Homo sapiens: one gene and its partner. The protein of the gene in region 1 interacts with the protein of each later gene in a pairwise test. Each region holds a gene or a part of one and is shown in the gene's direction. Other genes may lie near its edges.

The links.
Region 2: the proteins of DNAAF2 (region 1) and UBE3D interact in binary tests that used the Homo sapiens proteins (3 or more experiments, as listed by UniProt).

What each region holds. Positions count from the first base shown.
Region 1 is NC_000014.9:49,633,885-49,637,801, reverse strand, and holds the start of DNAAF2 (protein kintoun), read left to right. Parts: upstream 1-2,557; 5' UTR 2,558-2,652; coding exon 2,653-3,917. UniProt on the Homo sapiens protein: Required for cytoplasmic pre-assembly of axonemal dyneins, thereby playing a central role in motility in cilia and flagella.
Region 2 is NC_000006.12:83,024,147-83,028,063, reverse strand, and holds part of UBE3D (E3 ubiquitin-protein ligase E3D), read left to right. Parts: intron 1-2,184; exon of another isoform or gene 2,185-2,306; intron 2,307-3,917. UniProt on the Homo sapiens protein: E3 ubiquitin-protein ligase which accepts ubiquitin from specific E2 ubiquitin-conjugating enzymes, and transfers it to substrates, generally promoting their degradation by the proteasome.

The sequences.
Region 1 (3,917 bases):
GTGTGGGTGGATATTTACATTTATCCATTCTACTATGAATGAGAATTTGGGTTGCTTCCAGAATTTGTCAACTATGAAATAGTGCCGCTATGAATACACACATTGTAGTACATGTGTTTTGGTGGGGATATGTGTTTCTGTTGAATGTGTATCTGGGAGAATTTCATTGTCGTAAGCCTTATGTTAACAGTGTTCCAATATATACTCCCAGGATATGAAAGTGCAATTGCTGGCTGGGCATGGTGGCTTGTGCCTGTAATCCCAGCACTTTGGGAAGCCGAGGTGGGCGGATCACCTGAGCTCAGGAGTTGGAGACCAGCCTGACCAACATGGTGAAATCCCATCTCTACTAAAAAATACAAAAATTAGCTGGGCGCAGTGGTAGGTGCCTGCAATCCCAGCTACTTGGGAGGCTGAGGCAGGAGAATTGTTTGAACCCAGGAGGCGGAGGTTGCAGTGAGCCAAGATCGCGCCAAAGCACCCCAGTCTAGGCGACAGAGCAAGACTCTGTCTCAAAAAAAAAAGCAATGCAACTGCTTCACATCTTTGTTAATTACCTATATAATAAGTGCAATAAGCACACAATAAATATCTGTTGAAAGGACTAATTTGAACACAGATGGCATTTAAAACTATGGGCTTGGATAAGACATCTTGGAAGAAATGTGATTAGGTAAGAGGGCTGATGAACAAAGCCTTGGGCAACTCCCACATTTGCAGAACTGGCAGGAGCATAAAGGAGGAAAATGGGAGAGCTTGGAGTTCTGCAAAACATGAGAAAAATGTGTTTCGAAGGGGCAGTCAACTGCTTTGAATGCTTCCAAGAGACCATAAGATAAGGCAGTGGTTTGGGAAAAGAGGATTCAGGAGTTCTGATCTTGGTCATTTCAAGCCTGAGTAGCTTATGCATTAATCACTCAAATGGACACCTCAAACGTGCAGCTGGATATAGGAGTGTAAAATCTGAGTCTAAGACAAGTATTTGTGAGTGTAAATATATTTCTGAAGGAGAGTATAGATGGGTAAGAGATTGGGTCCCAGTTTTGGGGCATTTCCATGTAGAAGTTGAAAAGAAGTAGATACCTACAGAGCAAAACTATGAGAGTGATGAGACAGAAGAGAAATCTGGAAAGTGTCTTGTCACTGAGGTAATGCCAACATCAACTGTGTTAAATGTTGCTGAGAATAGAAAAATGATCACTGAATTGACCAATTACCAATGAATAAATAATTACTCCAGTAAATAAATATACTTCCATATGATCATTTTGAATGGTTGCACAAAACTCTGTTGCGTGGCTCTACCAAAACCTGCTCAATCAGTTCCATTGTTGAATTTGTAGATTCTTCTCAAACCTTTAGAATCATAAATGATGTCACCTTGAGAATGTTCTAAGAGTATTGTGTCAAATACTCTAAGGGCATTTGGGTCAAAAAAATATGCACATTAGAAAGGTTTTAGGCCGGGCGCGGTGGCTCATGCCTGTAATCCCAGCACTTTGGGAGGCTGAGGTGGGCAGATCACATGAGGTCAAGAGTGGGAGACCAGCCTGGCCAACATGGTGAAATCCCATCCCTACTAAAAATACAAAACTTAGCCGGACGTGGTGGTGAGTCACTGTAATCCCAGCTACCTGGGAGGCTGAGGCAGGGAGAATTGCCTGAACCCGGGAGGCGGAGGTTGCAGTGAGCCAAGACTGCACCACTGCACTCCAGCCTGGGTGACAGAGTGAGACAGCCTCAAAAAAAAAAAAAAAAAAAAAAAGGTTTTGGACCTGGTGTGGTGGCTCATGCCTGTAATCCTATAATCCCAGCACTCTGGGAGGCCGAGGCGGGCGGATCACGAAGTCAGGAGATCGAGACCATCCTGGCTAACACGGTGAAACCCTGTCTCTAGTAAAAATACAAAACATTAGCTGGGCGTAGTGGCAGGCGCCTGTAGTCCCAGCTGCTCGGGAGGCTGAGGCAGGAGAGTGGCGTGAACCTGGGAGGTGGAGCTTGCAGTGAGCCGAAACTGCGCCACTGCACTCCAGCCTGGGTGACAGAGCGAGACTCTGTCTCAAAAAAAGAAAAACAAAACAAAACAAAACAAAGTACGGTGGTGGGTTGGTTTGAAGAATCTAAGAGGGCTATTTCTGGCATTTCCACTATTCCACCATGATTTCCTTGAGAGACTTGCTCTGTCGCCCAGGCCGGAGTGCAGTGGCGCGATCTTGGCTCACCGCAAGAGCTCTGCCTCCTGGGTTTCACCCCATTCTACTGCCTCAGCCTTCCGAGTAGCTGGGACTACAGGCACCCGCCACCATGCCCGGCTAATTTTTTGTATTTTTAGTAGAGACGGGGTTTCACCGTGTTAGCCAGGATGGTCTCGATCTCCTGACCTCGTGATCCGCCCGCCTAGGCTTCCCAAAGTGCTGGGATTACAGGCCTGAGCCACCGCGCCCGGCCTATTCCACCATGATCTCTACCCCTCCTCCCGAATGTTAGTGGTGTAACTATGACAACAAGCACGCGCTGCTCAAGGCTCAATTTTCCAGCCGTTACCGACCTCCACCGCGTCACTGTACGCTGCCCAGAAACTCTGAGGCGGATCCCCCAACCCAGTGTCAGACTGATCGCCTTTGGCCCGAGGGCGAGGAGCCACAGGACAGTATGGCCAAAGCGGCGGCCTCCTCGTCGCTGGAGGACTTGGACCTGAGCGGAGAGGAGGTCCAGCGGCTCACCTCCGCCTTCCAGGACCCGGAGTTCCGGCGAATGTTCTCCCAGTACGCCGAGGAGCTCACCGACCCGGAGAACCGGCGGCGCTACGAGGCGGAGATCACCGCGCTAGAGCGTGAGCGCGGGGTGGAAGTGCGGTTCGTGCACCCGGAGCCCGGCCATGTGCTGCGCACCAGCCTGGACGGGGCGCGGCGCTGCTTTGTGAATGTCTGCAGCAACGCGTTGGTGGGCGCGCCCAGCAGCCGGCCCGGCTCCGGTGGCGACCGGGGCGCAGCTCCTGGCAGCCACTGGTCCCTGCCCTACAGCCTGGCGCCCGGCCGCGAGTACGCGGGGCGCAGCAGCAGCCGCTACATGGTCTACGACGTGGTCTTCCATCCAGACGCGCTTGCGCTGGCCCGGCGGCACGAGGGCTTCCGCCAGATGCTGGACGCCACGGCCCTGGAGGCCGTCGAGAAGCAGTTCGGCGTGAAGCTGGACCGCAGGAATGCCAAGACCCTGAAGGCCAAGTATAAGGGGACCCCAGAGGCTGCGGTGCTGCGCACGCCCCTGCCCGGGGTCATCCCCGCAAGGCCTGACGGGGAGCCGAAGGGTCCTCTCCCGGACTTCCCCTACCCTTACCAGTACCCGGCAGCCCCCGGGCCCCGGGCGCCCTCCCCTCCGGAAGCGGCCTTGCAGCCCGCCCCCACCGAGCCTCGCTACAGCGTGGTGCAGCGCCACCACGTGGACCTCCAGGATTACCGCTGCTCCAGGGACTCAGCCCCGAGCCCCGTGCCCCATGAGCTGGTGATCACCATCGAACTGCCGCTGTTGCGCTCGGCCGAGCAGGCGGCGCTGGAGGTAACGAGAAAGCTGCTGTGCCTCGACTCGAGGAAACCTGACTACCGGCTGCGGCTCTCGCTCCCGTACCCAGTGGACGATGGCCGCGGCAAGGCACAATTCAACAAGGCCCGGCGGCAGCTGGTGGTTACGCTGCCAGTGGTGCTGCCGGCCGCGCGCCGGGAGCCCGCTGTCGCCGTCGCCGCCGCCGCGCCGGAAGAGTCCGCGGACCGGTCCGGAACTGACGGCCAGGCCTGCGCTTCCGCTCGCGAGGGGGAGGCGGGACCCGCGAGGAGTCGCGCGGAGGACGGAGGCCACGATACCTGCGTGGCTGGGGCTGCGGGCTCCGGGGTCACCACCCTGGGCGACCCGGAGGTGGCGCC
Region 2 (3,917 bases), on another chromosome or scaffold:
TTAAAAACTCAGCCAGTGGTTTAACACCAGATTAGATACAACTTGAAGAGAGAATTAACGAGCAAAAGATAGATGACAAGAAAAACCTGCTGTGTAGCACAGAGAGACAAAAGGCAAAAAATATAGAAGAGAGAGTAAGAGACGTAGAACAGACTATCTGATGTATGTTTAATCAGACTTCCAGGAGGAAAAGAATGGAGCATGGGCAATATTTGAAGAGATAATTGTTGAGAATTTTACAAAAGTGATGAAGAATAGCAATCTATAGATTCAAGGGACCCAGTGAATTCCAATTCGGCAAAGCCCTAGCAAGAAAAATAAAAAGAAATCCATACTTAGACACATGCGAGTAATACTGTAGAATAAAAAGTGAAGATAATCTTAAATGCAGCTAAAGAAAAAATGACAGAGTGCCTTCAAAGGAACAGCAGTAATGGAAGTCTGAAGACGGTAGAACAATATTGCCAATGTGTGCAAATAACTGTTGATCCTAGGACTTAATCTCAAGTGAAAATTTCCTTCAAGAATTAAGGCTAAGATAAATATGTTTTCTGACAAACACAAACTAGGTTAATCTAGGTTAATTCAATACTAGTGGTTTCTTTTTTTTTTTTTTTTTTTTTTTTTTTGAGACGGAGTCTCGCTCTGTCGCCAGGCTGGAGCACAGTGGTGCGGTCTTGGCTCACTGCAACCTCCGCCTCCTGGGTTCAAGCGATTCTCCTGCCTCAGCCTTCCAAGTAGCTGGGATTACACACATGCACCTCCACGCCCGGCTAATTTTTGTATTTTTAGTAGAGATGGGGTTTTACCATGTTGGCCAGGCTGGTCTTGAACTCCTGACCTTGTGATCCTCCCGCCTCAGCCTCCCAAAGTGCTGGGATTACAGGCGTGAGCCACTGCGCCCAGCCCATAGTGGTTTCTTATGAAAAGAAATTGTACCTGTACTCAGGTAGAAGAAAATGATCCCACATAGAAGATCTAAGTTCAATAAGGGTTGATAAAATCGTGAATATTCACATAACACTTAAATGAATATTAACTATAAAACAATAGAAATAATACTTGTGGGATTAAAATAATATAATTAAATTTTAGATTAACAACACATGAAATAAAAAGGGTCACTTCTGCTTTGGGAGGCGGAGATGAGAGGATCCCTTGAGACCGGCCTAGGCAACATAGTGAAACCTGGTCTCTACAAAAAATTAACTGGGCATAGTGGTGCATGCCTGTAGTGCTAGCTACTCAGGAGGCTGATGCGGAAGGATCACTTAAGCCCAGGGGTTCGAGGTACAGTGAGCTGTGATCACACCACTGCACCCTAATTGGGCAACAGGGCAAGACCCTGTCTTAAATAAGTAAATAAATAAATACATAGGCATTTCATAAAGTTAAAAAGGTTTAGTTTAGTCCTGCGTGTAATAACGATTTCAAAATAGTAAATATTGACACATCTTCAATGATAAATGGGTAAATCTGTCATGGCTGTCTATATATTAATCTATGAAACCATTTATTTTTTTTACCTTTCTGTGTGTAATATTGAGCAATTACACACTTTTTCAAAAAATAACTTTGTCTTATTAAAAGTTGTTTGACAACACTATTTTATTTTATTTTTTAAGAGATGGGATCTTACTCTGTCTCTCAGGCTGGAGCGCAGTAGTTCATTGAAGCCTCAGACTTCTGGGCTCAAACAGTCCTCTTGCCTCAGCCTCCCGAGTAGCTGGAACTACAGGCACATGCCACTCTGCCTGGCTAATTTTTAAAAGAATTTTTTGTAGAGACAGGCTGTCACTTTGTTGTCCAGAATGGTCTCAAACTCCTGGGCTTGAAGTGATCGTCCTGCCTTGGCCTTCCAAAGTGCTGGGATTAAGTATGAGCCACTGTACCTGGGCAACACCACCATTTTTAATGACAGCCTCATTTTTAATTATTTCTGGTTTGAATTTGACCTATTTAAAATTTGAAACATGCATGCAGTTATGTTGCCTGAATATTTAACCCATCCTCAATTTTTAGACATTTGTTTTCAGTATTTTTCTATTGATATTATGAGTATCACTATAGATAAGTGTTTTCATATACCAGTGAGTATTTTTTTGAAATAAATTCTTATATGTTTAATTATGGTGCCACAATACATACACAATTTTTCTTTTTTTTTTTTTTTTTTTTTTTAAGATGGAGTCACGTTCTGTCGCCCAGGCTGGAGTGCAGTGGCACGATCTCGGCTCACTGCAACATCTGCCTCCTGGTTTCAAGCAATTATCCTGCCTCACCCTCCCGAGTAGCTGGGACTACAGGTGGGAGTCACTGCGCCCAGCTAATTTTTGTATTTTTAGTAGAGACAGGGTTTCACCATGTTGGCCAGGCTGGTCTCAAACGCCTGACCCCAGGTGATCTGCTCGCCTCAGCCTCCCAAAGTGCTGGGATTACAGGCGTGAGTCACTGCACCCAGCCCTACATATACAATTTTAAGGCCTTTGCCAAGTGGCTTTCCGGAAGTCTGTCATTTTCTGTTCTCACAGCAGTGTGTGAATAAGCATATCCATCTATATAAATAAGCGTATCCAGCAGTACACCTTATCATTTTAAAATATTTTGTTTGATGCAAAAAAAAAAAATCTTATTTTGATGTACATTTTCTTCATCGTTAGTGAGATTAAACTTTTTCTTAGATTTTTTTAGAACTCCAAGATGATTGTGTTTACATTTATGTCTATTAAATTTCTATTTAAATTTTTCTGTAAGCAATCAGATAACCAGATTTAGTGAGAATTGTATATCAATAGAGTCATTGAGATTCTGGGTAGATTCTAATGTGAGGTTCACCGCATCTGTGTTTTGGGATGCTGTGATTAAAAACCCCTTTTCAGGTAGGAGCACTGGAACATCAAAGGCAAGGTAGGTGTGGTTAGTGTAATGGACAGAAAGCAAGGCAACAATTGGAATAATCTGAGTTATTCAGTTATATGATGTTTGCTAGTTGATCATGGTGTTGTCTAGAAGTGAATTAGATAGCAAGCCTGCTAAAATCTTACTTGATTTGTATAAGAAAGTTCTATGTCAAGTGAATAAAAGTCGAGCTTGAATCATAAAAACAGAGAGTCCTGGCCCCTCAATCAATTCTCACACTTGAGCCTTTGTAGGCCCAGGACCCCTTGAATGAAGGAGAGGACAGATGCCCTCAACGAAAAACGATGCTACCTGAAATTTATACCGTTAATCTTTCTCCCAGGCTTCCACAAAGGGAACCATGGCCTTTCTCAGGGTAACAGTTCCCCATGCGCACTGGGGAAAAGGAAATAATCACACCTTTTAGGGACTGCTGGACACTGGTTCTAAATGAACACCAATTCTAGAAGACCCAAAACATCACTGTGGCCTTCCAATTAGAGTAGGGGATGGGGTCAGGTGATCAATAGAGTTTTAACTCAGGTCCATCTCACGGTGGGTCCAGTGGATCCCTGAATGCTTCCTGTGATTATTCCCGAATTCCAGAGTGCTTAACTCAAATTAACACACTTAGCAGCTGGCAGAATCCCCACGTTAGTTCCCCAAAGTGTGTATTGAGGCTATTATGGTAGAAAAGACCAAGTGGAAGCCATTAGAACTGCCTTTATCTGGGAAAATAGTACATCAAAACCAAAAACAAACCAGAAGTCTTTTTCATTGACTTACAGGTTTGTAGCTATTCTGTAGAATTGAGGAAACCCAGTGACTAATTTCTATCTAAGTGCACTATGCCTGTGATGTGACTAACTTTTATAATCTTCCATATGTGTAAGCAGAGTCTCTGGGCATTATTTTCTAAAAAGACACAGAAGCTTCAGAACTATCTCCTTGTAGTGACCAATGCTTTGTCTTCTGAAACTAAGTAGTTTTGGGAAAATGTTTACAGAATATTAATTTTA